2 separate regions of the Homo sapiens genome follow, and region 1 is linked to region 2. Evidence: fine-mapped expression QTL. A gene starts in region 2. The other region holds a variant in brackets. All regions are shown on one strand. Distances are from middle to middle. Region 1 overlaps MINK1 (misshapen like kinase 1). Region 2 holds the start of PLD2 (phospholipase D2).

What was found. PIP is the estimated chance that this variant, and not a neighbour inherited with it, causes the effect. A credible set is the group of variants that fine-mapping cannot tell apart.
Region 1: its variant is the best candidate, but not a certain one, in a credible set for the expression of PLD2 in whole blood (TOPMed, PIP 0.51).

What each region holds. Positions count from the first base shown.
Region 1 is chr17:4,844,704-4,849,088 of GRCh38, forward strand. All of the region lies in intron 1 of MINK1 (misshapen like kinase 1), which reads left to right. Among named protein-coding and RNA genes, the nearest start is that of MINK1, 14 kb to the left of the region's middle. RefSeq lists an enhancer at 4,247-4,385. The variant T/C (reference allele first, on the strand shown) is at 1,938.
Region 2 is chr17:4,805,328-4,809,712 of GRCh38, forward strand. PLD2 (phospholipase D2) reads left to right here and starts at 1,825. Exons shown (of 25, transcript NM_002663.5): 1 at 1,825-1,898; 2 at 2,445-2,554; 3 at 2,657-2,787; 4 at 2,947-3,089; 5 at 3,773-3,878; 6 at 3,971-4,036; 7 at 4,166-4,224; 8 at 4,364-4,385. The coding sequence starts at 2,446. It also overlaps a transcript of C17orf114 not described here. RefSeq lists a silencer at 1,376-2,165 and an enhancer at 2,561-3,760.

The sequences.
Region 1 (4,385 bases), 39 kb after region 2:
TGAAGAGGACATGCAGAAGACTTCAGAATATTTGGTCTGCAGGAAAGATAGTCGAATAATTCAAAAGAAAGCCTCTTCAGAGGGAGGAGAGGAAGGCTGTCTCATTTCCCCCCACCCTTTAAAAATGTGTTGTTGTTGTTTTTTAATGTGATTAAGTATATGTAAGACTTACCATTATAACCATTTTTCAGCGTACACTTCTGTGGCATTAAGTGCATTCACATTGTTGTGCAACTGTAACCACTATCCATCTCCAGAACTTCTTCATCCTCCCCAAATGAAGCTCTGTACCCATTAAACACTGACTCTCTGAACCCTCCACCTTCCAGCCCCTGGCACCCACCATTCTGCATCTCATTGTCTTTTGTGTGTGCAGAGTTGAGCAGAGGGTCTGACCGAGCAGATGTTTAATATTTGTTGAGTCCGCCTAGGTGCATGTCTCAGAAGTCCATGTATCATCAGCCAACCCAGAACACAACCCCCCTCCCAGCTCTAATGCAAGATGACAGGCTTCTGAAAGGGATTTTAAATGAAATGGCTGTCTGGAATCACAAGAGGATTGGGCAGCAGCAAGAGAAGTTAAGGGTTTCTGTTCCGTATTCAGTTCCTTTTGCCACCCCCCAGCCATGACTTGCGTTCTGGTTCTGCTATGCTCATGTTCGTCATCTTGCTTGTTTTCAGCCTCTTACTTCATCTCATCCTGGGGGTCTGATGGGTAGGTGCTAGAGGAAGTTGGAAATAAGGTCGTTTAGGGGATGAAGATCATAGAATGTAACAGCATTTCTGTATTAGTATGTGAGGGGTACATGTGTTAAAGGGCGGTCAACCCTCCTGGACCTCCAGGCCTCGACAGTTGAGAGCCAGGTCAGGCTCTGTATTCCTCTAGTGTTCATACTCCTGGACAGACCCAAAGCATGACCTGGAATTGAGTTGGATTTTTTTTTTTTTTTGACAGAGAGTCTTGCTCTGTCACCCAGGCTGGAGTGCGGTGGCACAATCTTGGCTCAACTGCAGCCTCCACCCCTGGGTTCAAGCGATTCTCCTGCCTCAGCCTCCCAAGCATAATAGCTGGGACTACAGGCATGCGTCACCACGCCCAGCTAATTTTTGTATTTTTAGTAGAGATGGAGGTTTTACTGTGGTGGCCAGGCTGGTCTCAAACTCCTGACCTCAAGTGATCCACCTGCCTTGGCCTCCCAAAGTGCTGAGATTGCAGGCGTGAGCCACCGCATGTGGCTGAGTTGGATATTTTAGAACACAGATGAATGCAATGGCCTCCCTGGCCTCCTCACTTTCCCTCATCCTTGCTATTTACAGTTTCTCATTGACCTTCATGGGGAAGGAGGAAAAAGGGAGGGAGTGACACACTTATTCTCCAGGTGGCCCAGGAAGAGAGGAGGGCAGGAGAGCCCCCTGTCTTAGAGGTCAAAATACAGGCCTCTAGCTGGTAGGCTGGGGTGGTATCTTAGGGTACACTGTTGTGGGCTGTGCCCTTACATTACCAGGCAGAAGCCTGCAGTGCAAAAGACCTCTGCGTTTCCTCACAATAGTGTCAGATTGGAAGGATCAAGGGAAGACTCAAGGACTCATGAGGTCTTTTTTCTCTGTCTCCTTGTACAACCTTAGAGGAAGCTGCATGTATTTGATGACACCTTCCAGGAACTGCCCAATACCGAATGGCCCTTCTCACCACAATTCCTCTTACTGCAGTCTAAAGCGTACTTTTTTCTTAGGCTGAGCCAGGTCTGAATGGCAGTCAGTTGTTTTCCTTGGACTGAGTCTCAGTCTACCCCACCCTAATGTTCAAAGTTTGAATGAAGGAATGTTCCAATTGATGACTCCTAGAGACACTAACATCCTTAGGTGTTATCCTACAGTCTGCCTGGATGTTGTTCCCATCACCATCGCCAATACAAGTAATAAGTGATTGAAGTGTT[T/C]GTGTTTAAAGCAGAGCCTCTATGGGCCATCTTATTATGACTTTTTTTGAGACAGGGTCGTGCTCTGTTGACCAGGCTGGAGTGCAGCGGCATGATCATAACTTGCTGTAGCCTTGAACTCCTGGCCTCAAGTGATCCTCCCACCTCTGCCCCCCAAAGTGCTAGGATGACAAGTGTGAGCCACAGGCTCGGCCCCATCTTACATTTCAGAAGGTGCCAGCAGTCGGCCAAGGCCTCAGAGCTAGTGAGAGCTGACTTCCCATACTCATGCCTCATGACTCTGCCGCATTGCCCAGTCCCCACCAGAAACAGAGATCTCGTGTGAGATTGGTCAGTGTGGAGTCCAAAGTGTAGTCTTTGCAGCTTAGTTGTGTTTCACAAGTTAACAATGAACATACCTGCTACTGCCCGGATCTCCTGTCCTGGCCTCATAACCTCCTCAGGTGGCCCAAATTGCCTATCTCTAAAGAGCTGTCAGTGGGAGGCCTGCTAACACAACGGGCTGTTTGACTTTGCCTTTGAGGCAATGTGATCCATGGAGTGAACATGGCATGAGGAGCCGGGTGACCTGGTTCTAGTTTTGGTTCCAGTTCATTCATTCATTCATTCATTCATTCATTCATTCAGATGGAGTCTCGCTCAGGCTGGAATGCAGTGGCGCAGTCTCAGCTCACTGCATCCTCTGCCTCCTCGGTTCAATCAATTCTCCTGCCTCAGCCTCTAGCGTAGCTGAGATTACAGGCTCCCACCACCACACCTGACTAGGTGAGCTGATGCTGGTTTGAATCCAAGTCTGTCTCCAAAGCCTATGCAGTTGCAGGGAGTGTTTCCCGAGGACTGTAGGATGATAGGATTCCCTAAGATCCCTTCAGGCCCAGGAGTCCTTATTTCTTCCTAAAAATTTTTGAGTGCCTACTATGAGACAGAGCCAGCCCCCTGTCATAGAGGTCAAAATATGCTTTATTTGTTCTCACACTGACTTAAACATATGAATATATTAAATGTGTAATTTACAGTGTTCTATATATAAGGAAAAGTGCATGTATGAGGTGGTGACTGTGTGTTAAGCTGGGAGGAGCTGACAGAAACGGGGGGTGCCAGTGGCCAGGGCGGGTGGTGTCTCAGAGCTGGTCTCGGAAACATCAGTTCCTACTGTGTAGAGAGATCTCAGGTTGGGCGCAGTGTTGGAGTGTGGGTATGGAGCCCAGCATCCATGGGAAGGACACAAAAAATAAAGGGAAGTTTCAGAAAAAGGTCTGGGCCCAGTACAGTGGCTCATGCTTGTACTCCCAGCACTTTGGGAGGCAGAGGTGGGTGGAGTGCTTGAGCTCAGTAGCTTGAGACCAGCCTGGGCAACATAGAGACCTCATCTCTGTTTAAAAGAGGAGAGATGGGGGAGAGAGAGGAAGAAGGAGGGAGGGAGGACGGGAGGGACTCTGAAGGACTATTTGATTTGAAATATGACCTTCAGAATATGTACACTCCAGAGACGGTTTCCTGAGTCTGCTAGTGCTGAGGAGGAAGAGCAGTCAGAACCAAATGGGGATTGACTTGTGAAGACAGGGAATTGTTCCTTAGGGACAGAGAGGAACCTGGAATGGGGGACCTTCCCCATCGCTCCCTGCAACTGCACAGACCTTGGAGACAGACTTGATTCAAACCCCAGTTCTGTCACTTACTACGTGTTCTTTGGCAAGTAACTCATACCCCTATGCCTCAGTGTTTGGGGGTATTTTTTGAGACGGAGTCTCACTCTATCGCCCAGGCTGGAGTGCAGTGGCGTGATCTCGGCTCACTGCAAACTCCGCCTGCCAGGTTCATGCCATTCTCCTGCCTCAGCCTCCCAAGTAGCTGGGACTACAGGCACCTGCCACCACACCTGGCTAATTTTTTGTATTTTTAGTAGAGACGGGGTTTCACCGTGTTAGCCAGGATGGTCTCCATCTCCTGACCTCGTGATCCGCCTGCCTCGGCCTCCCAAAGTGCTGGGATTACAGGCGTGAGCCACCGCGCCTGGCCTCGTTTTTGTATTTTTTAGTAGAGATGGGGTTTTGCCATGTTGGCTAGGCTTGTCTTGAGCTCCTGACCTCAGGTGATCCGTCTGCCTCAGCCTCCCAAAGTGCTGGGATTACAGGCCTAAGCCACCGCGAACCTGGCCCCTGTGCCTCAGTTTTGTCCTTTGTAAAATGAAGGTAACAAGACTCACCTAATAGGGATGTTGAGAGGATTAAATAAAAGGGATGTAAAGTGCTTAGTCTGGTAAATGCTCATTAGACAGGTGGTAGCTGCCCAACATCTCTTATTGCACAAAGTTCCCAGAAAGCGTGTCTCCTGGGGTTCTTTAACATTCCTCTCCCCCTGACTTAGTATTTTGTTTAAGAAAGAGAAAACCACCCAGTCTATTGATTTTAAGGTAAATGGCTGAGAGTGAGTCAGTGAGCCCCAGGT
Region 2 (4,385 bases):
CTGAGGCAGGAGAGAACCCGGGAGGCGGAGGTTGCAGTGAGCCGAGATCGCGCCATTGCACTCCAGCCTGGGCAATAACAGCGAAACTCTGTCTCAAAAAAAAAAATTAGCAAAAGGCCGGGAACGGTGGCTCACGCCTGTAATCCCAGCACTTTGGGAGGCTGAGGAGGGCGGATCACTTGAGGTCTGGAGTTTGAGACCAGCCCGGCCAACATGGTGAAACCCCGTCTCTACTAAAAATACAAAAATTAGCCGGAAATCCCTTGAACCTGGAAGGGGGAGGTTGCAGTGAGCCGAGATCACGCCACTGCAGTCCAGCATGGGCAACAAGAGCGAGACTCTGGCCGGGCGCGGTGGCTCACGCCTGTAATCCCAGTACTTTGGAAGGCCGAGGAGGGCGGATCACAAGGTCAAGAGATCGAGACCATCCTGGATAACACGGTGAGACCCCGTTTCTACTAAAAATACAAAAAAAATTAGCTGGGCGTGGTGGCGGACGCCTGTAGTCCCAGCTACTCAGGAGGCTGAGGCAGGAGAATGGCGTGAACCTGGGAGGCGGAGCTTGCAGTGAGCCGAGATCGCGCCACTGCACTCCAGCCTGGGCAACACAGCAAGACTCCATCTCAAAAAAAGAAAAAAAAAGAGCGAGACTCCGTCTCATAAAAATAAAAATAAAAATAAATAAAAAATAGCAAAAGACTGAATAGGCACTTTATAAAAGAAGACATACAAATGGCCAATCAGCACATGAAACATGGTCAATATCATTGATCTCCAGACAAATGCAAATCAAATTGCAATGATGTGCCCACAACACCCATTAAATGGCCAACGCTAAAGACTGACAATATCCAACGTTGGCCATGCCATGGAATAACTGGAACCACCATACACTGATTTTGGAAATCTAGAATGGAAAAACCATTTAGAAAAAAATCGTTTGGCAGTTTCTTATAAGTTAAACACACACTGATATGATCGAACAACTCCACTCCCTAGTTACCCAAGATAAAGGAAAACTATCCACGCAAACTTACAGGAATGTTTACAGGAGCTAAAACAATGGGCAAAACTAGAAACCCACATGTATATCAAAAGAGAAAAATAAATCTGCTTTTTAAAAAAGATTGAAATATCTTGTATTTTAATACCCGAAAAAATTTTATTTCCCCCTAGACTGCCAATTCCAGCTGAGCAGGCTCTCTAACCATCTTATTTACTACCATACTCTCAATTTCTGGCACGGAGTAAGCGCGCAATAAATGTTTGGTGAATGAATGAAAGAATGCCCGCTTTCATACACTAATGGGTTTGTAGCCACCACCCCTCAGGCCTTTTACGCCCTCATTCCTTCCAGGTACAAACGCTATCTGGGCTAGGCCAAATGTGGCTCGCAGCGGGTCCGGGAGCGGGGCACCTACCGGCAGCTCCCGCAGCGGAGGCGCGTCCCCCGGGCGCCGAGGCAGCGCCCGCGGCTGGAGGGGCCCGGGGCGGGCGCCGAGCCCGAGGGATGCGCGCAGCGCGGGGTGCCCCGGGAGGCAGCGGCCGGGCACGCTGGGACCGACGGCGCGGGACGCCCCGACGCCGGGCAGCACTTACCCGCCGCACCGAGAGAGCTACGCGGCCCCGCGGCCCTGCAGGGCACAGGGCGGCCCCCTGCCCGGGGCTCTCGGTGGCGCACTGGGCGGCGGGGCGGGCCGAGGGCAGCGGGGGCGGGACAGGACAGACGAGAATCCCGCGGAGGTGAGGCCGGGGGCCGCCCCGCCCCCGAGGGCAGGCCCTGAGCCCCGGCCCCGCCTCGGCCGGCCCCGCCTCGGCCGGGGCGTGGGCTCCGGCTGCAGCTCCGGTCTGCTCTCTTGGCTCCGGAACCCCCGCGGGCGCTGGCTCCGTCTGCCAGGGTGAGGGGGCCGGGAAGGGGCGCGCGGGGGTCCCGGGTCTCGGAAATCGGGCGGGGACGGAACGGGCTCGGGCTGCGGGGCCTCCAGACTCAGTCGCACGCTCAGATTTCGGGATTTCTACCCCCGGCTGGGATCGCGTAACTTCCTCATTCCCGCCTGGACCCCTGCCCCCGGCCCGCCTGGCCTGGCGTGAGCCCCGTAGCCGCGCGCTCTCCGGACCACCCAGGGCCGCTTCCCCGCGCAGCTGCTGCGCCGCCCCAGGTCGGAGCCTTCCGGGCCTGGCTGGGTGTTCCCCGGGGCTCTGGTTACGGGACGGGGCGGGGGGCGGGGGGCGGGACTGGGATTGTGGATGAAGGACTAAGGTAGGGGATGGGGGCTCGAAGGGGTCGGTGGGGCGTTGCAAACTGGTCAGGCGTCATCCGCGGGCGGTCAGGAGGCCGTGGGGGAAGAGGAGGATCTGGAAGAGATGGAGGACCTGCGGGAGTTAGGATGGGGGGCGGGTTCTGCAGGACAGCTCGCCTCCCTGAGGCTTCCCAATGTTCCTAGGATGACGGCGACCCCTGAGAGCCTCTTCCCCACTGGGGACGAACTGGACTCCAGCCAGCTCCAGATGGAGTCCGATGAGGTGGACACCCTGAAGGAGGGAGAGGACCCAGGTACACAGGGAAGATGGATGGCCCTCAGGGAGGAGAGGCGTTCGGGAGCCAGGGGGCTGGGGCCTGTTGTGGTCTACACTCCTCGACTTTCTTTCCTCCCAGCCGACCGGATGCACCCGTTTCTGGCCATCTATGAGCTTCAGTCTCTGAAAGTGCACCCCTTGGTGTTCGCACCTGGGGTCCCTGTCACAGCCCAGGTGGTGGGCACCGAAAGATATACCAGCGGATCCAAGGTGGCCAGACTGGCCCCAGGGAGGGGGAAAGGGAGGGCGGCCCGGAATGGATCCAAGGTGGCTGGGCTGGCCCCAGGGAAGGGGCAAAAGGAGGGCTGGCCAGAGTGGGGAGGCGGGGACCCACGCAGGGGACATCCATTCAGTTCCTCATACCCCTAGGTGGGAACCTGCACTCTGTATTCTGTCCGCTTGACTCACGGCGACTTTTCCTGGACAACCAAGAAGAAATACCGTCATTTTCAGGAGCTGCATCGGGACCTCCTGAGACACAAAGTCTTGATGAGTCTGCTCCCTCTGGCTCGGTGAGGGCGACCGGACTGCTTCCTGTAGAGGGCAGGTGCTCCCCACCCTCCTTTCTGTCTGTCTCACCCCGGGGCCACAACCTTTCCTCCCTGCAACTCTGGCCACTGTGCTGCCTCCCCTGACCCCAGTTACCAGGAAACTTTCCCTGCTCAGCTTTCCCTGTCCATGGTTCTGTGCCAGCATCTCAGCTGGGCGGGATGCCCAAAATGCTCTTGGCAGCCTCACCCTTTTCTAGTCTCCATTCCCAGGGTAGGGGGCCTCCGTTTTGCCAGCCTCTAGGCCTTTTGTTTGTTTTTTGTTTTTGTTTTGTACAAGGTCTCCCTCTGTCACCCAGGCTAGAGTGCAGTGGTATGATCTTGGCTCATGGCAACCTCCTGGGCTCAAGCAGTCCTCCCGTCTCAGCCTCCAGAGTAGCTAGGACCACAGCCACCACACCCAACTAATTTTTGTATATTTTGTAGAGATGGGGTGCTGCTGTGTTGCCCAGGCTGGTCTTAAATTCCTGAGCTCAAGTGATCCACCTGCTGCGGCCTCCCCAAGTGCTGGGATTCCAGGCGTGAGCCACCACGCCTGGCCACCTCCAGGCCTCTTCTTTTCCTCCGAGCCCCATCTCCAGTGTTTTCAGGAACCAGAGCACCCAGCCTCCCAGCTCTTACCTGACCTTCATCCATCCTTTCCACAGATTTGCCGTTGCCTATTCTCCAGCCCGAGATGCAGGCAACAGAGAGATGCCCTCTCTACCCCGGGCAGGTCCTGAGGGCTCCACCAGACATGCAGCCAGCAAACAGGTGGGACCAGATGCCAGGTCCTCCGGGAAGGCATTGGAGGTGCAAATGGCTCGGTCCCATCTGTCTCTCTCTCTCTCTCATCTCCACTTCAGAAATACCTGGAGAATTACCTCAACCGTCTCTTGACCATGTCTTTCTATCGCAACTACCATGCCATGGTAAGGTCCAGGGGCCGATTTTAGATGTGGAGCAGGATTATCAGACCCTCGGGGAGGAGGGCCAGGGGCCCCAGGGTCTGAGGGGCTGAAAGCCAGGTGTCTCCTCCGGGCTTTTGTTTTCCTCTGCAGACAGAGTTCCTGGAAGTCAGTCAGCTGTCCTTTATCCCGGACTTGGGCCGCAAAGGACTGTGAGTGTCTGGCCCCCTTCACCCAGGCATCCGTAGACATCACTCTTAATTTCTCCCTGCCTGAGATTGGGGCAAGCAGTGCAGGGTGGGCTGGGGGTCTGGAGTCCTCATCCCGCCTCTCTTCCTGATTGTCCCACAGGGAGGGGATGATCCGGAAGCGC